Regions from separate parts of the Homo sapiens genome. Here all the other regions are reported to be linked to region 2. The links are microRNA targets in miRTarBase. Many come from high-throughput screens and were not tested one by one. Region 2 holds a microRNA gene; each other region holds the end of a gene's coding sequence.

Evidence for each region. The annotated mature microRNA hsa-miR-4524a-3p reads UGAGACAGGCUUAUGCUGCUAU and lies in region 2 at 2,232-2,253, shown strand. An mRNA with a match to its seed (bases 2 to 7 or 8) in the 3' UTR can be bound and repressed. Matches are read on the target gene's strand: a 7mer-m8 pairs with bases 2 to 8, a 7mer-A1 pairs with bases 2 to 7 and ends in A, and an 8mer does both.
Region 1: miRTarBase lists ODAPH as a target of hsa-miR-4524a-3p. The part of its 3' UTR that is shown has no 7-base or 8-base seed match.
Region 3: the mRNA of CNKSR3 is a reported target of hsa-miR-4524a-3p. Seed matches in the 3' UTR shown: 7mer-m8 at 2,219-2,225 and 8mer at 2,060-2,067.
Region 4: the mRNA of CCPG1 is a reported target of hsa-miR-4524a-3p. The part of its 3' UTR that is shown has no 7-base or 8-base seed match.

Annotation. Positions count from the first base shown.
Region 1 is chr4:75,563,432-75,568,635 of GRCh38, reverse strand. ODAPH (odontogenesis associated phosphoprotein) reads right to left here. Exons shown (of 2, transcript NM_178497.5): 2 at 3,819-4,522. The coding sequence ends at 4,197. Among named protein-coding and RNA genes, the nearest start is that of ODAPH, 10 kb to the right of the region's middle.
Region 2 is chr17:69,096,619-69,101,822 of GRCh38, reverse strand. It overlaps MIR4524A (microRNA 4524a), which reads left to right and starts at 2,191; the gene lies at 2,191-2,259. ABCA6 (ATP binding cassette subfamily A member 6) reads left to right here. Exons shown (of 39, transcript NM_080284.3): 22 at 889-1,026; 23 at 3,796-3,903; 24 at 5,022-5,195. It overlaps MIR4524B (microRNA 4524b), which reads right to left and starts at 2,281; the gene lies at 2,167-2,281.
Region 3 is chr6:154,402,158-154,407,361 of GRCh38, forward strand. It overlaps CNKSR3 (CNKSR family member 3), which reads right to left. Exons shown (of 13, transcript NM_173515.4): 13 at 1-4,495. The coding sequence ends at 4,197. Among named protein-coding and RNA genes, the nearest start is that of IPCEF1, 48 kb to the left of the region's middle.
Region 4 is chr15:55,351,883-55,356,882 of GRCh38, forward strand. It overlaps CCPG1 (cell cycle progression 1), which reads right to left. Exons shown (of 9, transcript NM_001204450.2): 9 at 3,357-4,527. The coding sequence ends at 4,338. It overlaps PIGB (phosphatidylinositol glycan anchor biosynthesis class B), which reads left to right. Exons shown (of 12, transcript NM_004855.5): 11 at 2,916-3,096; 12 at 3,404-3,766. The coding sequence ends at 3,550. DNAAF4-CCPG1 (DNAAF4-CCPG1 readthrough (NMD candidate)) reads right to left here. Exons shown (of 16, transcript NR_037923.1): 16 at 3,341-4,527. Among named protein-coding and RNA genes, the nearest start is that of MIR628, 19 kb to the right of the region's middle. RefSeq lists an enhancer at 918-1,561.

The DNA.
Region 1 (5,204 bases), not on the chromosome of region 2:
TGTAGTTACTGCTATGAAAATTGGATACTTCTTGTTATGGACTGAAGTGTGTTCCCCCAAATTCACATGTTGAAGGCTTAGCCTCCTCAATACTTCACCATGTGACTGTTTGGAGATGGAGCCTTTAAAGAGGTGATTACTTTTTTTTTTTTTTTTTGATGGAGTCTTGCTCTGTCGCCCAGGTTGGAGTGCAGTGGCGCAATCTCGGCTCACTGCAAGCTCCGCCTCCCAGGATCACGCCATTCTCCTGCCTCAGCCTCCTGAGTAGCTGGGACTACAGGTGCCCACCACCATGCCTGGCTAATTTTTTGTATTTTTGATAGAGATGGGATTTCACCTTGTTAGCCAGGATGGTCTCGATCTCCTGACCTCATGATCCACCCACCTCGGCCTCACCAAAGAGGTGATTAATTTAAAATGAGGCTGTTAGGAAGGGCCCTAATCCAATCTGACTTGTGTCTTTATAAGAAGAAGAAATCTAGTCACACAAGAGAGACACCAGTAGCACATGTACACAGAGAAATGACCATGTGAAGAGGAGGAAGAGGGTGGCCATCTGCAAGACAGGGAGAGAGGCCTCACAGGAAACAAAGTAGGAAGCAGGAATGGACTCCAGAGGCGGGGCTTAGACATCAGACCAGATTGAGGACTAGCTAAAACAGGGGTGGAAAGTGAGGAGGAAGCACCCTTCAATACCCTTCAATCAGACACACCCACCAGTGTGCTGTGTCAATTTACCATTGTCATGGCAACACCCAGGAGTTACTGCCCCTTTCCATGGCACTGACCCAATGACCCAAAATTTACTACCCCTTCCCTACAAACTTCCCGAATAAGTCACCCCTTAATCTGCATGGACTTACAAGTGAGTATAAATATGACTGCAAAACTGCCCTGGGGTACTACTCTCTGCCTACAGGGTAGCCTTGCTCTGCAGGAGCAGTCACAAAGCTGTAACACTGCCTCTTCAATAAAGCTGTTTCCTTCTACCTCTGGCTTGCCCTTGAATTCTTTCCTAGGCAAAGCCAAGAACCCTCACAGGCTAAGCCCCACTTTGGGGCTCACCTGCCTTACATCAAAACCAACCCTGATGGCACTTTGATCTTAGACTTCTAGCCTCCAGAAATACATTTCTGTTGTTTAAGCCACCCAGTCTGACACTTTGTTATGGGAGCCCTAGCAAGCTAGTAGACCTCCTCAAATAATTTTTAAATATTGTTCTTGAAATAATATCGAACTCTAGAAGAGCTGCAAGAATAGTACAAACAACTCCCATATACCCTTTAGTCAAATACATCAACTGGAAAAACATTTGCCACATGTGGTTTATTACTTCCCATCTGTCTGCCTATCTATATATCTATCTATGTATCTATCTATCATATATATGCACATATCTGCATATCTATGCATATTTTTCCTGAATCTTTTGAGATTTAGTTGCAGAGATCATACTTATTTACCCTTAAATGCTTCAAAATCTATTTCCTTAAGAACAGGAATGTTCTCTTACAGAATTATGAAATTCAGGAAGTTTAACATTGACAGAATACTATTACCCAATACATGGTCCAAATTTAAAATTTGTCAGTTGTCCCAGTTATGCCAAAATGTCCTGTCCCTCCCCTTCTGACCTCCAGGATCTAATCGGAGATCACATATTGCACTGAATTGTCATCCACTTCAATCTCCTTTAATCTTTGTCTTTCATGACATCTACATTTTTGAAGATGCCAGTTTTGCAAATGTTCCTTAATTTGAGTTTTTTTTTGATGATTAGATTCAGGTTATGTGTTTTGGGCATAATTAGAACTTTAGACTTACAATACTATTGTTGTAATTCCTGCCTCAAAAGAAAAAAAATGCATTGAAGAGTTATTATACCCATCCCACAGACTCCCATTGCTTCAAAAACAGCTAGTCGAAAGGAACTAATTTGAGAAACTAATTCACATGGAGGTATTAGTGGTTCCACATTATCCTTCTAATTCAATAAACCTGCTAGGAATCTCTGTATTTAAAAAGTGAATTTATGAATCCAAAGGAATGATGCAAATTTTTCTAAGTCACAAAAGCATATTCTTCCCTCCCCCAAATAAGCCTTTTGCACTCCTAGGCCTATACTTTTAATAGCAGGTGTGGGCTGCTTCTCATATTCTATACATGTTCCAGGGTGAGGAATAATGCAATTTTACCTAGAGCTATGTTGAAAGGCCCTTACTCTGAAACACTGTAGGAGTAGCCTGCCTTCTATAATTAATGCAGTGATTAATGCATCGAAGCTGTTCATCCATCATTAGTTTGTCTTAGTTTACCTGAGGCTGGCATATTACTTAGCAAGTCCTTCAAGGACTAGATTTCAGAACGATTAAATTTTGAATTGCAAAAGTTCTAACATTTGGGAAGAGAAAGCCCAGTCAAAGGTAGGTTAGTTTTTGGCAGTTGCTGGCACTATGAGGACACTGAGTACCTAGGTGAGTGGTGAGCATGCCGGAATAAAGGAGGAGAGTCAGAAGGGGAGGTGGGTTTCAAATACAAACCTTTATCTGTCTTCAAGTTTGCCTGAAGCTGGCCCTTTTCTGGTATGTCCCCATCAACCAAAAAAAAGAGAGCAGGTAGGGTTTATTTCAAAATATAGTTTTGTTTTGTTTTTCTGAAGAGACTTTCAAGTAGGTTTTTATTGAAGCCTGTAAATTTGAAGCAAAAATCTATTCTTAAAATGAATATTTTCTAGAATGTGAATTAAATAGTTTTTTTCTTTTTTGATCATTTTAATAAAGCAAAGAAACATAGCATGATGATTTTATCTCTCTTTCCTTTTTTAGGGCAACCATTCCCAAAGTCCTTTCATGTCTTCATCCTGATTTTTTTTTTTCTGTTTTTGTAGCAGCAGCAGCAACAGCAACTTTTGCATGTAGATCTTGGGAGGAAAAAGTGCAAACCACTGACCACATATGCAGAACTAAAGTTCTTATGTTACAGGCAAGATAAGTGGCATAAACAGGAAGATGTGTTTTACAGAGTGGCCAAAACAAATAACCAATCAATGCAATCTGTGGGATTTGTTTCTCATATTGCACCCTGAGAATACAAGGTTCCAAGAGTTGAGTGAACTTATCTCTGTGGAGTTCTAGAGGTACCAGAATATTCTTGTAGCAGTTTAATCAGGCATTTTGAACCTGGAATTACGTTAAAAGTTTGAGAGGAAGTATATTATTTTAGCCAGCATCTATGTAATGATAACGGGAAACAGTGAGAAAATTATCAAATTAATTTGCATCAGTTGAAGTCAACATTAAAGTAAATTTAGATACTATAGTTTAAAAGTAATTATTTGGGGCTGGGCGCAGTGACTCATGCCTGTAATCCCAGCACTCTGGGAGGCCGAGGTGGGTGGATCACCTGAGGTCAGGAGTTCGAGACCAGCCTGGCCAACATGGTGAAACCCCATCTCTACTAAAAATACAAAAAATTGGCCAGGCTTGGTAGCGAGCACCTATAATCCCAGCTACTTGGGAGGCTGAGGCAAGAGAATTGCTTGAACCCGGGAGGCAGAGGTTGCAGTGAGCCGAGACAGCACCACTAAACTCCAGCCTGGGTAACAAGAGTGAAATTCTGTCTCCAAGAAAATAATAATAATTATTATTATTTGGGTTAGACAAGTCAGTTTATATCTTTAAAGTATTAGCTACAGTCAGACTCCTCATAACTTTTTAATTGCTTTAAGCTTTATAATTTCTTTTAAAGTTTACTTTGTCAATGCACCTTGCTCTGTATGTTTTCCAATGAGTATAAAAACGGTGTCATCAGTTTCTTCGTGTGGTTTATAATGATCTCAATTTATTTAAATCCTGTTTAATTTAGAGGAGGAGATGGATTCTCTCAGCATCTTAGTATGGATAGGAATTACTAGAGCCACCCATTTAAAGATTTTATTTGCATAAATATCCTGTGACCATAAGAGGTTGAGGATAAAAATAACGTGGTTATTGTCCAATTTTGCAACCATCAATAACCTATGATCCAATATCTTCACTGCTGACAAAGAGAACAGTTTCTAGTCAGTGATGTTTAGGATACTTAATCTTCAAATCCAATAGTTTTAGTTTCGAAAGATAAAACAGAAATCTTTTTGTTGCTTTTTTCTGAAGGATAGGCTTTTTTTTGCTTCAGTATGTTTGGGTTTCTCTTCCCTCTCAGCTTTCCTCAGATGAGCTTCCTCTCTGGAGTCTTCTTCTGGGGAAATACCTATAAGTAAGGTAACGGTGTGGCCAATAAAATGGCTGGAATGGAAAACGGTGGTTACACCTTGAAGGGACGAAAGGTCTGTTTGGAAACCTAAAATGGATTCTGGGCCTTCGTGGAAAAAAATGGAAGGGACACCTGGGTGTCTTTGTGATGGGCTGGGCCCTTGTGACCGGACTCCTCGGGGCAGGTGGAGGGGTGAGTGTAAAGATCTGGCAGTCGGTAGCGTCCGCATTATTTTGTGAATCTCCAGGAGGCGTAAATACCTCTTCTTGTCCTGTGGAGAGGAAAACGCAAGTCAGGAAACAGGTCTGGTAACAGAAGCAGAAGAGTGGTTTAGAGTGGTGGCAGAGGAGAAAGATGGGAAGAGAGAATTAGAGAAATCTCAATGTATATTTGAAAGAACTGCCAACGTTCAATGAAATGAGACACAGACACACTGGATGACCCAGCATTGCCACTGTGGGGAATTTACCCAAGAGAAATGAATGATTATGTCTATAAAAAGACTTGTTCGGGGTGTTCACAGTAGCCTTATTCATAATAGCCTAAATGGAAACAATCTAAGTGTCCATCAACAGAAGAATGCATGAAGAAACTGTGTATATTCATACAATGAAATAGTACTCAGCGATAAAAAGGAAGAACTACTAATACCCACAACATGGATACATCCCATGAATGTTGAGCAATAGAAGTTAGACACAGAAATGTACATACTGTACGACTCCCTTTATATGAAGTTCAAAAACAAGCAAAACTAATCTATAGTTAAGAAAAAGTCAAAATAATAATTCAGCTTAGGGAAAGGATAGGTATTTTTTAGCAGAAAGTGTAGCCAGGGACCACTCTTTAGAAATGTTTCATATCTTGATCTGGGTGGTTGTTACATAGATATGGTTATCTATATATCTACATGTATACACACACAGGTGTACCTACACATATATAATTTGTAT
Region 2 (5,204 bases):
CACATATTTACTACATGAACTAGTGGTAAGATTTAAACAATAAACCTTCTAATAGATTAATGAACATTTTCCTAAACATGAAGTACATAAATATAAAGATTGCTTTAGGAAGTGGGGAAATGCTTCTTTGGCAGGGTAAGGATGAATATTTAATGAACTCCATGCTTATCTCCTATCCAGAAGGCCAGCATTCCTTTGCTGCTGCTGCTGCTTTTTTTTTTTTTTTTGAGACAGAGTCTCGCTCTGTCACCCAGGCTGGAGTGCAGTGGTGTGATCGCAGCTCACTACAACCTCTGCCTTCTGAGTTTAAGTGATTCTTCTGCCTCAGCCTTCCAAGTAGCTGGGATTACAGATGTGTGCCACCACACCTGGCTAATTTTTGTATTTTTTAGTAAACATAGGGTTTTGCTATGTTGGCCAGGCTAGTCTCAAACTCCTAACCTCAAGTGATCTGCCCGCCTTGGCCTCCCAAAGTGCTAGAATTACAGGTGTGAGCCACCATGCCCAATCTTCCTTTGCTTCTTCATCATAAACTGACAGCATCTCCTTGTCAGGGAGACTTTTAAACTCTACTAAATGAAATTTCCCCATCAGCAAAATGGAGACAAAATTATCTAAAATTAGTAATACAAATAAAAATTCATATTGATTGTATGCTGACTCTGTGCTAGAGCTTAATGTACATGAATAGAGTGTCATTTAAGCCCTATAACAACCCATTTAGTATTTCCTTTTCATAGATGAGGAAGGTAAAGCTCAGAAAGTTTAGTTCACTTGAAGATGGACACACAACAAGCATGTGGCACTGTTAGGATCTTTTATACATAAACCTTGCCTTTGTTCTTTAAGAATTTAGCATTAACATTATTTATTTGTTTCTGTTTTAAGGATTATAGATTTTCAGTTGTGTGTAATACCAAGAGATTGCACTGTTTTCCAATTCTTATGAATATTATCAGCAATGGGCTACTTCAAATGTTTAATCACACACAACATATTCGAATTGAGTCAAGCCCATTTCCTCTTGTAAGTATTGGATTTACTGAGTCTAAACAATTAAGAATTGGACAAATAGCCTATGTTTTCTCTCTTTAGCTTTTAAATATCCATAAGTGATTGTTAAGCCTGAAAATTATTATTTTATCCTAATATTTTCAATGGGTTATAGCAAACAAAACAGGATTTTTTTTTCCTGCCAAGTTATCAGATAATTATCGTGAGGGAATACTTTTCAATATTTTGTCAGTCTTCTAGGCAATGTTTTGAAAAGTTGTACATACTTGATTGTGGAAGTGTATGAGAAAGAGAAACAGAAAAAAGAAAACACTGACTTGGAAATCAGGAGAACTTGTAACCCTGGTTACATATAAATCTATTATAATTAGTTAGTGGACCCTCCATTGACTAAATGTGTAGTAGACAGACTAATATGAAGGAGAATCTGCCAGTTCTGGGGCTATCTGTTGATTTATTTATTCACCTACTCATAGTTGCTCTATGTTGTGAGGGAGCCTAATACACACAGGCTGCATTGGATTCTGTGTCAGTTGGCTATAGTCTGGCTTCAGACAGTTTGGACACTAGAAAGCAGTGGTGGGAGACAGAAGAGCAGAGGACCCCCTACATTGGGCTCCAGTCACATCACCTCCTTCTGCTGTTCCTGAAGCCCAGAAGCAACAATAGCTTGCTTCTCACTTCACCATCTTTGTGGGATGCTCATCACCCACCTAACCATGTCATAAGGAATTGCACTCTAAGAACTTAACGTAGTCATGGTTTTCTGGTTAGACCCTGCCTGATACCAACAGGGGTGTCTCAAAGCTGACTCCAACTGTTTCACACCAGAAGTCTGAAACATCAAGAAGCAGGATTAGAAATGAAGCCATCCAAAGGGAAGTCCATTTTGTGACAAAAGTGTGAAGCTCAGTTTTGGCTTCACTGAATCAGTGGTGCTGGGAGTATATGCAAGCACAGGTTTTCTGTAAGCCATGGGAACAATGGGGATGAAATATACAGTACTTGAGATGTTCGTGACAGACACATACCTCCGTGAGTTGAGTATGACCGACTGATCACGTAAACAGGTCTGCTGCACAGGATGACTCGAGGGAAGGGGTGTCTGAAGGGAATTCTCCAGAAAGTGGAACCAGAGGAGTAGCAGAAAGAGACAGTGATTACCCTTCCTCTTTGGAACGATAGCAGCATGAACCTGTCTCACTGCAGAATTATTTTGAGACAGGCTTATGCTGCTATCCTTCAAAAGAACACATCCACCCAGCTACTGAGGTTTCCATCTCTGGGTTTGCTCAGAAAGACATGCTGCTCAGGCCTGAATTATGTGTTCATCAAAGGTCCTAACTTCTGAATTATTAGCTTCCTAATGCCATTGTGTTTGCTCAGGATCAAAATGGACTGAAGCCCATAGCTACTCTATTAGAAACCTGTTCCCCACTCCCACTTCCCCATGGCACACACCTTTCCTCCCTCATTCCTATGATGAAAAACAGAATTTATAGACATAGCCCTCAAAGTCTTAAATAAAGTTAAATAATTGTGGAATTATTTTGAGACAGGCTCATGCTGTTATCCTGTAATTATATCCATGAGGTGGTCCTAGATGCTGCTAGAGTGTCCACTTGGCCTAGCCTCAAGTGGATGCTGATTTGGGGGTAGTGATTTAAAGTTCCTTTCCCTGAAGTTAAGACAAGCAGCAACAAGTTTTCTTCTTGGTTCTGTGCTTCAGAACACATCCACCCAGCTACTGAGGTTTCCATCTCTGGGTTTGCTCAGAAAGACGTGCTACTCAGGCCTGAATTATATGTTCATCAGAGGTCCTAACTTCTGAATTATTGTTTTTTTGTTGTGGTAATAATACATGATATAAAATTGACCATTTTAGCTGTTTGCAAGTGTACAGTTGAGTAGTATTAAGTATATTCACATTGTTGTGAAATGCATCTCCAGAACTTTGCCGTCTTGCGGAATTGAAACTCGATGCCAATTAGCTTTCCCCCTCCCCCATCCCCTGGAAATAACCATCCTATTATGTTTCTATGAATATTACTAGTTTAGAAACCTTATATAAGTGGAATATTTGTCTTTTTGTAACTGGTTTATTTCACTTAGCATATTTTCCAGGTTCGTCTATGTTGTAGCATGTGACAGGATTTCCTTCTTTTTTTTTTTTTTTTTTTTTTGAGACCGAGTTTTGTTCTTGTTGCTCAGGCTGCAGTGCAATGGGGCGATCTCTGCTCACTGCAACCTCTGCCTCCCAGATTCAAGCGATTCTCCTGCCTCAGCCTCCCAAGTTGCTGGGATTACAGACATTTACCACCACACCTGGCTGATTTTGTATTTTTAGTAGAGATGGGGTTTCACCATGTTGGTCAGGCTGGTTCAGACTCCTGACCTCAAGTGATCCTTTTTAAGGTTGAATAGTATCCATTGTTTGTATATACATACACATTTTGTTAATCCATTAATTTGGACTTTTGGGTTGCTTCCACTTGTGAGTATTGTTGGTATGAATATGAATGTGAGGGTATCTCTTCGAGAGCTTGCTTTCAATTCTTTTGGAAATATCCCCAGAAGTAGGTCCTAAATGACTTTTGACTTCTCTTTGTTCTTTGAGTTGAAGATCAGAGTCACTTTCCCTCCCACCTTCGTGCCTAGATGGTAATGAGCTACACCTTTACTTTGATTTTTCAACATTTCAAAAAGTGCATTTTTGTGGCTATAATTATTTGTTTCATTTAACAAATATTCACTAGTTTAAGCTACCCTTTATATTTTCAGAGCCACATAGGACTCTGGACTGGGTTGCCGGATGGTTCCTTTTTCTTATTTTTGGTTCTATGTAGCATTTCTCCTTATATCACCATGGGCAGCATCAGTGATTACAAGGTAAGAAAAAGCAGGGAAAAGAAGAAATTTCAGGAATTTCAATATCTGTATTTTGAATGCTATGTGTTCAAAATGTTTTCTTCTGACAAAAACATTTGAATGTATGTTTAATTTAGATATTGTAGCTAAACCTTATTCTTGGCAAGTCAGATAATTTACTTCTAAAAACTCAAAATGCTTTTTATTCCAAAGTCACCTGAAAAGTACAGTGATTTTTCAGAGACTCCAATTAGTCTAAACCTTCAAAGGGAAATATTATAAATCTTTTGACCACATTATTTCCCAGCCACAAGAAGGAAATCATTGATGTTGAAATCAAAGGCCAAATTTAAGACTTGAATTCCTTTTCCACTCTGGAAATTGCAATTTTATGTTATATTTGTATTCGATTATGCCCATTATTCAGACAAAGCAGTTAAATCTATCAACGTTCACCATCCTGAGCCAGAAACTCTCCAAGATGTTTAGGTAAAGGTAAATGTATTATGTCCTCCAGGTCACAAAATAATACTTTTTTTTTTTTTTTTTTGAGATGGAGTCTCACTCTGTTGCCCAGGCTGGAGTGCAATGGTGCAAAATCGGTTCACTGCAAACTCCGCCTCCCGGGTTCAAGCAGTTCTTCTGCCTCAGCCTCCTGAGTAGATGGGATTACAGGCTTGCACCACCATGCCCAACTACTTTTTGTGTTTTTAGTCAAAATGGGCTTTCACCATGTTAGCCAGGATGGCCTCAATCCCCTGACCTTGTGATCCACCCGCCTTGGCCTCCCAAAGTGCTGGGATTACAGGCGTGAGCCACCATGCTGGCCAATACTTATTTTTATAGAGTTTAATGCCTTGAACATTATGAGGTCCACTTTTCATTATTCATGAGCTAAAGTTGTGTTATGAGTCAGGCCTATCACAGTATACATTTTATTTTTGATAGACACCTTGTAAACCATGGAACTGGCTCTATAAGCCTCATGTTACTAAGCAGTATATGCATAATTTTTTTTAATATTAGAAGATTAGATTATATTTATCTTAAAAATTCTTCCAATGTGTTTGTGTTTATTTTAGATTTGCATTTTAATTGAATCTATATACATTTCTTTCTTTCTTTTTTTTTTTAATCAGAAAAATGCTAAGTCCCAGCTATGGATTTCAGGCCTCTACACTTCTGCTTACTGGTGTGGGCAGGCACTAGTGGACGTCAGCTTCTTCATTTTAATTCTCCTTTTAATGTATTTAATTTTCTACATAGAAAACATGCAGTACCTTCTTATTACAAGCCAAATTGTGTTTGCTTTGGTAAGTAAC
Region 3 (5,204 bases), not on the chromosome of region 2:
AGAGGCAGTTCTGGAAATGTGAGCATGTTAGGGGTGCCACTGATGGGCGGCCACTACTGAGATTTAACCTGTTGGAGCATGCGTGATACACAAGCCCTGCAGCTTACAGCCCTCACAACAAAGAGCTGACTCATCAACACAACTTTCAATTGCCCCGCCCAATATTCATATAGATGGGAACTCAGTTTACAATAACAAATCTATGATCTCATTTCATTTTATATATAAACACACAGAATTTTCAGCCCAGTTTTAATATGCTTTGGATTTTTCAAGAATGCAATGAGAGAATTCTATAAATGGAAGGAAGCCTATATACTGAGTGATTATGAGCAAGAAAGCCAGAGCCAGGCTGCTTTCATTTTAATCCCAGCTCTGCCATTATTAGCACATAACCAGGATGACTAGCACATAACCTGGGTAACTCCCTCATATGCAAAACGGGACTAACAGCAGTACTCACCTCATAGATTTATTAGAAAGGTATTAGAACAATGCCAGGCACACAGCAAGCACTATATGAGTGAAGCCATTACAGACTAGGTATGCCTAGAACTTTATCTAAAGAATTGGCCACATTTTAGAAAATCATACTGCTGACATCGACCCCTTTCCTGGTATTGAACTGCCAATGCAGCAGGTCTGAATTGGTAACTACCACATTCATGGTGATTTTTCACATATTTATATTTATACACACACATACAAAGTATGTGCCCTGCTTAGTAGTTTAATTACATCTTGTAATATAACCATGCTAGAATATGTACATATGAAAATAATTATTTCATTATAAAATATCTTATCTGTTTCAGTTAGAACGTCACTGATGGGTATGTTTTAGAGGCTAGTTATATTACCTGCTAGTTTCATTTCAGAATAGTAAATGGAGTGATGTTTTTATGAGTGAAGGTAAGCTTCATCATCCATGATTTTCATTTGAAGATTGAAAAGTGATGCTATAAAATATTATAATAGGGGTAGGTGTTGAGTTGTGTCTGGGAGAGTTTTAACAATCACTCTTGTAAAGTATCCTGTCAAGGAGTTCAAGATCAGCCTGGCCAACATGGTGAAACTCCATCTCTACTAAAAATACAAAAATTAGCCAGGTGTGGTGGCGGGCACCTGTAATCCCAGCTACTTGGGAGGCTGAGGCAGGAGAATTGCCTGAACCTGGGAGGCAGAGGCTGCAGTGAGTTGAGATTGTACCACTGCACTCTAGCCTGGGTGACAGAGTGAGAATCTGTCTCAGAAAAAAAAAAAAATTTTTTTTAAAGAAATAAAAATAAAGAATCCTGTCAAAAAGCATCATCAAGCAACTTCATATGTGAACACACGTCCACAATTAAACCTGGATTACTACTGAGGCAAGCAGTTTCCATTAATTTCTAAGAAATCCATATTAAACTATTATTTATGTATGTCCATAGTAGAGGTTTACAAAGGTTTTTTTTTTTTAGCAGCAATATATTTTTCAAACACAATTCAGGAGAAAACCTCAAATAAAAAGAAAGATGAAGCTGTGGAGGGTGACTGCAAGTAGAGGAGCCAGGAACTTCTCTCGCGGGTCCTGGGACTCCAGGGAACAAAGGCTGAAAAGCACCAATCTGGTTGGCCACTGCCTATAATGAAGACTGACTGCCGAATATTCACTTAAAGGATGGCTGTTCAATTCACAAGTGGCATTTTCCCCACAGAAAAAGAGCTCACCAGCCAGCTAAGGCCTCCAGAGTGATTTAACTCATCATCCAGTGGAACTACAGCTCTTAGAGTTCTCCCCACAATCTGGGGAGTAAGAGGAGATGTTGCCACCCACTTCCTGGGCATAAAGCCAGCTCAAGACAAGAGTAAAACAGGCAGGGCTGGCTCGCCCCTCGTACACAGCTCCCTCCTCATCACCAGTGCCCTACACGAGACCTCCCCAGCCCACACCCCACCCTCCTAGTGTGTTGAACACCCTGTGGTCACACACTGCAAGCCTCTTCTCTCCATCTGCCAAACACCCTTGGGTCTCCATGTCTCCATGAAATACCAGATCTTTTTCTTTTTGTTTTTTTTTTGAGACAGAGTCTCCTTCTGTCACCCAGGCTGGAGTGCAGTGGCCTGATCTTGGCTCACTACAACCTCCGCCTCCAGGGTTCAAGTGATTCTCCTGCCTCAGCCTCCCGAGTAGCTGGGACTACAGGTGCCCACCACCATGCGAAGCTGATTTTTAGTAGAGACAGGGTTTCACCATGTTGGCCAGGCTGGTCTTGAACTCCTGACCCCAGGTAATCCACCCACCTTGGCCCCCCAAAGTTCTGGAATTACAGGCATGAGCCACTGCGCCAGGCCGAAATACCAGATCTTCATGGCAGTTGTCTTAGAGGTAGAGAAGAAAACAGCCAGACTGAGCCGGGTGTGGTGGCTCATGCCTGTAATCCCAGCACTTTGGGAGGCTGAGGCCGGCAGATCAGTTGAGGTTGGGAGTTTGAGACCAGCCTGGCCAACGTAGTGAAACCCCGTCTCCACTAAAAATACAAAAATTAGCCAGGCATGGTGGCGGGCACCTATAATCCCAGCTACATGGGAGGCTGAGGCAGGAGAATCGCTTGAACCTGGAAGGTGGAGGTTGCAGTGAGCTGAGATTGCGCCACTGCACTCCAGCCTGGGTGACAGATTGAGACTCCATCTCAAAAACAAACAAACAAACAAAAAAAACCAGCCTGACTGAATTCAGTCACAGTAATTATACATGAGTGGTTGCTAGTTCCTTTAACCACACCAGAAGCATTTTAAAGGGAAGATGTTTCCTAACTCCAGTGATTTTCATGGGCTGAATTCCAGGCAGTTCAGCAAACTCAACAATTCCGGTGGTATGAGAAAGGGCATTTTGGAGTAGGAGATTTCGGCTCTGCCTAGGAAGATACCTCAGAAAATTCCCCTCGTGCAATTTCACTTTGCATATGCTTCTCCTGTTCTTCCATTTCTAATCCATAAAATCCCAAAATGCTTGGGAGGGTTTATTTTGATTTTTTTTAACAATACTGCCCTGCTGGCAACAGCCACGATAGTCACTTGCTCATCTGAAAATGCCTTGCACTTTCTTTTTCACTAGCTTCGTGTATGACGCAAAACAGAAATATTTCAATTACAGGTGACTAAGAGTAAGAAAAATATACAACTATATTTAAAATACTTAAATTAACAAGATAGTACTTTTCCATTCTAACAAAATATCATACATTCAGTTTAAACAAGAGTTAATATCCAGACACACGTTTTCAAAATACCTGATGCTAGTTGAAAATTAGTGACCATGAGGCTTTCCAAGATATTTCTAATTAGCAAACTGTGTACAATTTTGAAGAAGTGTACACACCGTGCTGGAAGACAGACACTGAACAGGTCAAAATGCAAACTCATGTATCTTTCATCAACCTAAATCTTGTTGCTTCACTTTTCTAAATGATACTTTGGCTGTCAGCGAATCTTATAGCTTCTTTTCCCTTAAAGACAATAATATATAACAACACCACCCCACACAAATAACCATAAACTTCTTTGTGTGAAATAAGCCCTATCAAAATGTGTTCATGTATTTCTGTACCAACTGATCTATACTGAGACTGTCATGAAAAAGGTATCAAACAAGTGTAACAGGCCTACACTTAAACCTCTGCCTCAAAGGAGAAATCAGATACTTGCCACGTTATTGCAAAGTCAAAGCTGCTACACTTAAAATATGGTAGATAGTTTAGAAAAATCAAATCAAAAATGTTTTCTCACTGGCTTTTTCAGATAAAGAAGTTGGACCACAAACCAACACATCTGTGTGAAAACAGCCACCAATTTGAGTCCCCCCAGCCCCTCAAAAAGGAACAATGCCACCAGTCCCTCACAATGACCATAACGTCTCTGGCCAGGACTGCGATTTCTAGCGCGTGTCTTCACATTCTATCTCTGGGGAAGCAAGACAAACAGGCTCTACCCATTTCCCTCCTTTTGTCTCCACAAGCCAGCACCTAAGATCCTCTGAATTTGTTCCCATCCAATCCTGCAAACTTCCAAGAAGGGCAGTAGATAACTTTTCAAAAGAAAAAGAAATTGCATAAGGTCCCTACATAATACTGAGGCTGAAACGAGAAGAGGCTGTCCACTGTAAAAGCAAGGCACTTGGGGCAGGAGCCAGGCAGGTGGCCTGAGCAGGGTCCCTCTCAGTGAGTCAACAGTTTGAGGCGCGTAAACCAGCTGACCAGGAGGGACGGTTCTGTGGACGAGGACTTCGTAGCTGAGGAGCCAGATTTCTTTTTGGTCCCTTCCTCCTGGAATGGAATCGTGGCGCTGCTGTGGAGATCTGAGTTGATGTAGCACCTGCTTCCTCGGATGTAGTCCGCACCCCGGACCAGATGCCGCTCGGTCGTGGGTCTGGAGAACCGGTATGGGGGAGAGGAGCTCTCTTCAATGATCGGAGGAATCCGCTCGTTACTGAAATACCGGCAAAGGGCATCCTCCCCTGTTTCCAGACAAAGTCCATTAAGTCACAATCCCAGCCGGGCGTGGTGGCTCACACCTGTAATCTCCGCACTTTGGGAGGTCGAGGTGGGTGGATCACGAGGTCAAGAGATCTAGACCATCCTGGCCAACATGGTGAAACCCCGTCTCTACTGAAAATACAAAAATTAGCTGGCGTGGTGGCGGGCGCCTGTAGTCCCAGCTACTCAGAGAAACGTTTGAACCCGAGAGGCGGAGGTTGCAGTGAGCCAAGATCGCGCCACTGCACTCCAGGCTGTTGACAGAGCGAGACTCTGTCCCCTCCAGGAAAAAAAAAAAAAAATCACAATCCCCTACACAGTGCTCTTTGGAGGGCCCTCGGCCTGCCCAGACTTCTGCCACCACCCTGAATGTGGGCACCATACCTTTACTGCTCTCCTCCCTGGATTGGCCACAAGGTCCCACCTGTGGCTGGGCCCACCAATGGGTGCTCTGGAAGCAGAAATGGGAAGGGTCCCTCATACTTTAGGCTGCTTTAGCGCCTGAGAGGTAGCACACGGGTCTCCTTTAGTGGGTGGGGACCATAGAGTGTAGTGTCCCCGCGATGGCTGAACAGAACTGTTTATGCATTGTTTAATGCAGGGCATTCAAGCTGGGCATTCAGGAACATTCCCGAACAAGGAAAAGAGTGATCCTGCCCTAACTGCCAGCAGACCCCCTGGGATGTGGCT
Region 4 (5,000 bases), not on the chromosome of region 2:
AAAAAAAAAAACATGGATTTTAGTCCAGATTTACTACTGGATTATTGCCCTCATCTTAAACTAGACTTCTTTTTTTTTTTTTTTAGATGGAGTTTTGCTCTTGTTGCCCAGGCTGGAGTGCAATGGCGTGATCTTGGCTCACTACAACCTCTGCCTCCCGGGTTCAAGCGATTCTCCTGCCTCAGCCTCCTGAGTAGCTAAGATTACAGGAATGTGCCACCATGCCCGGCTAATTTTGTATTTTTATTGGAGACAGGGTTTCTCCATGTTGGTCAGGCTGATCTCGAACTCCCGACCTCAGGTGATCCGCCCACCTCAGCCTCCCCAAAGCGCTGGGATTACAGGCGTGAGCCACCGCACCCGGCCTTAAACTAGATTTTTAATCTCTTTGGACATCAGTTGTCTCACCTGTAAAAAATTAGGGAATGCGACTAGATGATATTCTAATGCTTGAATTAAGTGTTTCTGGGAAATATACTAAAATTGCCTCAACTATGTATGGCCTTTAAAAAGACATCCATTTGTTCCTGTGCTTTATTTCAGGAAGCTGTATTAGTTACTAATTACCCAGTAATGGTATAGGGGCAAAGGAGCCAGATTTCCTACAGAAAATTATATACCAGGCTGGGCGTTGTGGCTCACGCCTGTAATCCTAGCACTTTGTGAGGCCGAGGCGGGCAGACTGCCTGAGCTCAGGAGTTTGAGACTAGCCTGGGCCACATGGTGAACCCCTGACTCTACTAAAATACAAAAAAAATTGGCCAGGTGTTGTGGCGCATGCCTGTAGTCCTAGCTACTCGGGAGGCGGAGGTTGCAGTGAGCTGAGGTCATACCATTGCACTCCAACCTGGGCGACAGAGCGAGACTCAACCTAAAAATAAATAAATAAATACATAAAATCTATAACTATTTAACTCAGTCTGGCTTTAAACAATCTGGAGTTAATGTCTCCTATGCACGTTCAATTAATTTAATTACAGTGGTTATCATTTTAGGGGAATTTAACACTTGGAATACTCCTATTTAACTAATCATTAATGCCAGTAATTAATATACAGTTTAGAAAAATGGAGATCCTAGCAAAAACCACAGGCTAAAAGGAAGACATCAAGTATCCTTTCAACTTGAGGATTCCCTACTATATGTATATGTGGCTGAAAAAGGGACATTCACTCTCCGTGCTCACATTAGGGATAATACTGAGGAGAACAGGAATCCTAGATGTACCAAGATGTTCTTTATACTTAACTGTAGTCAGTTGATGTCTTAGGCTTTGAATAGTTCACCAAGTTCTCCACACCTTTTCAAAGCACACAAGAGAGGAAAGTCTGATGCCTATTTTGCATCAGACTTGGAAGTAGAGAGCAACATCTGTCCCTTGATTAACATCCAAATAAGTAATGGCTTTACTGTGGCATAGAAAGACTAGAGTAGGCCGGCAGCTTTTTCTGAGGAATTTCTGCTTCCCTTTGAAACAAGACCTTCATTTCCAATAAATAAATCACTATTAGGTCTTGTGTACATTTAATTTTTATGCATTTCATAAATAAACCTCCTGCATAATTACTAACTCCATTTCTAACTGGAAATTTTAAATGTTTGTATCAGTGAGGTTTAATTTTTCCTAAGGCAATTATAAACATGGCTTTTTGCATGACCTAAGTAACTGGCTTAAATTGTCATAACTGGTATTAGAAATGAATCCATCTTTTTTATACTCTAATCTTTTTTTTGTTTTGAGACAGACTCTTGCTCTGTCGCCCAGGCTGGAGTGCAGTGGCGTATGATCTCAGCTCACTGCAACCTCCGTCTTCTGGGTTCAAGAAATTGTCCTGCCTCAGCCTCTTGAGTAGCTGGAACTACAGGCACATACCACCATGCCCGGCTAATTTTTGTACTTTTAGTAGATACAGGGTTTCACCATGTTGGCCAGGCTGGTCTTGAACTCCTGACCTCCAGTGATCCACATGCCTTGGCCTCCCAAAGTTCTGGGATTACAGGCATAAGCCACTGCACCCGGCCTACTCTAGTCTTTCTATGCCACAATAAAACCATTACTTATTTGGATGTTAATCAGTGGACATATGTTGCTCTCTACTTCTCAATCATCTTAAATAAAAAAAAAAAACACTTCAAACTTGCCATGTGGCTGGGCGTGGTGGCTCACACCTGTAATCCCAGCACTTTGGAAGGCTGAGGCGGGTGGATCACCTGAGGTTAGGAGTTCAGGACCAGCCTGGCCAACATGGTGAAACCCCATCTCTACTAAAAAAATACAAAAATCAGCCAGGCGTGGTTGGCGGGCGCCTGTAATCCCAGCTACTTGGGAGGCTGAGACAGGAGAATTGCTGGGAGGTGGAGGTTGCAGTGAGCTGAGATTGCGCCATTGCACTCCAGCCTGGGTGACGAGAGCGAAACTCTTGTCTTCAAAAAAAAAAAACTTGCCATATAAGTATGTGATCCATCCCCTATCAGAGCAGAAAGGGAAGAGAGAAAGAATCCTTTCTGATTATGATCACAGTTTCCTACTTTATCAAATACACCTATGGAGAATTACTCTCCTATTAACAAGTTAACTTACCTGGTCCTGAGGACCATTTATGTTTCCGGAACAGAATACCAATGCTACAGAATGTTGAGTCCCCCTACTGACCTACTTCCCTCCTTGAAATGGACTTCTATGCACTAGTTTGGGCTTATAGGTTATACTGCTGCTGCTGCATAGGTACATGGTATAAGAATCATGTTTTTTTTATCTTTGAGAAAATGAGTTAAAGGCTTGCTTCTTCACTTAACTGCAACACAGTTTACAGATTCAGATTTCACATTTTGCTAAGTATAAATGACATATCTTAAGACTAATGAAAACTTTCATGTTTTACTTGTATTTATTATGGTAACTTTTCTTTTCATAGCCATGTTCACTGCCCACTTCCCATGAGATTTCTCCAGTGCCCGCCAGACCTGACTGGAAAAAGTCATTATCTTGATGAAGCAGATGTATTTTACCTAAATCCCTTAAACTGGTTACATAGAGAGTTTCATGATGATGCATCATTGCCTACTCACTTGATCACCTTCAGCATTTTGGAAGAGGTAAGTAAACATGAAAAAGAGGAAAACTCAGTATTTTAATTTTACCCCAGGTTTAGGAAACCCTCAGGTAAATAGATAATATAACCTTTTTATGGTCTGTTTCAACCCACATTTCATAATTAGTCTTTTCTCCAGTCAAAATTAGCCCCAGTTCTGTAACTATCAAAGTATTTTACTTCCTATAAGTTAATTCTTTTATTAAGCAAAAAGTTGTAGACAGCAATTAGAATAGGCAATTCTAAAATTGACTGAAACAGTACTCAGCAAAATGTAGCCTTTATTTACTTAAACATTTATTTGCTTCTAGGAAATAAGCGCTTTCCTAATTTCAAGCAATTATAAAAGAACTGCTGTTTTCTTCCACACTCACTTGCCAGAGGGTCGAATTGGAAGTCACATATATGTCTATGAACGGAAGTTAAAAGGGAAATTCAACATGAAGATGAAATTCTGAACTTTCCTAGATAAATTAACATTGCTGGGTGGAAATATTCAGATGCTGCTTAAATACTTCGGTAAACACTGGGTAAGATTCATGGAACTTAGAAAAAAGCTGTATGAACTGCTTTACCAAATATCACTACTGAGGAAATGTATAAAATACCACATAGTATAAAATTACATGTTAATACAATGCCAGATTTTAAATAAAGACCTTTAGTTTTCCTCATGGTGTAGTTTTATTGTTTCTTCCACGATATTCAGATGTGCAAAAAATTTCACAAGAAAACAAGTCAGCAAGCTCTTAAGAGGGCAGCAAATTCTTCACAAGTCAGAGGGCTCTTGAACCCACAAAAAGACAAGAAGTGAGTGTAAGATTATAAAATGTTAATGATGAAATTCCAGAACAATGTACTTTTCTCAAGCTCTGCTGCAAATTTAACACAAACATCAGTGTTAATTACACTTTGTCATGTATGACTGAGCTTGCTTTAAGCTCTTACACTGAAAGGAAGTCTCATTTCATGCACAAAATCTGTTGCATGCCTGGCTTCCTTAATAAAACTACAGTTGAACATTTCCAGTGTCAAAAAAAATTCAACGAAGCTAAACTACAGGAAAATGCAGGTTAGTAGACTTTTAACTAATGCTTCTGAGGAATAATATAAAGTTATCAAACTGATACTTAGAAACAAAAGAAAAGACATTGTCATCTTGGTAATTTCATTAGTTTCAATACCAAACATTATACAAAGCATAAATTTTTCTCTTACAGTTGTCTAATTTAACTCAATTGTGAATCAGTATTGAGGATCAAAAGGTAATTGCCCCAATTCTATTTCAAGATTTGCCATTTGTCTTCCATTAGTGCGACCATATTTATGCCATTTACCTTCCCTTTTATAAGGCTGTGGCTGAAGGTGCTTCTGCTCTTGTTTTCGATGCCTGGAGTTTTCAATATTTACCATACGTTGCTTTTTATCAGGTCGACTGAAAGCAGTAAACACATTTTTCATCTATGTTAGAGTTCAATGTATTTAAATTTAAAACAATTTTAAATGTTTTCTCCATTAATCTATGATCTGAACACTGATAAAAGATATTAAATATCTGAATTACAATCCTAGTATATCCATATAAAAATAAAGGAGTCTGTATTAGTTTTTTTGTCCTATAGAAAGAAAAAATAGACAATAACTCTACTGGCAAAAAAGGGAAACACTCAAAAGATAACAAAGAAAAGAAATGTGACAATAAAATAATGAGATGTGTTTCCATTATTTTTCCTCCTTTCCTATAAAAATCAGTCCCTCCCCGCTGGCTTTATCACTCAGCAGAAATACATACACATCTCTCACAAACAAAGCAAAACAAAAGTCTCAACTTTTTCTTACAGCAAAAGCTCACAACACCTACACCGCTTTCCTTAATGTCTATGATCAGGCTTCCGTCACTACTTCACT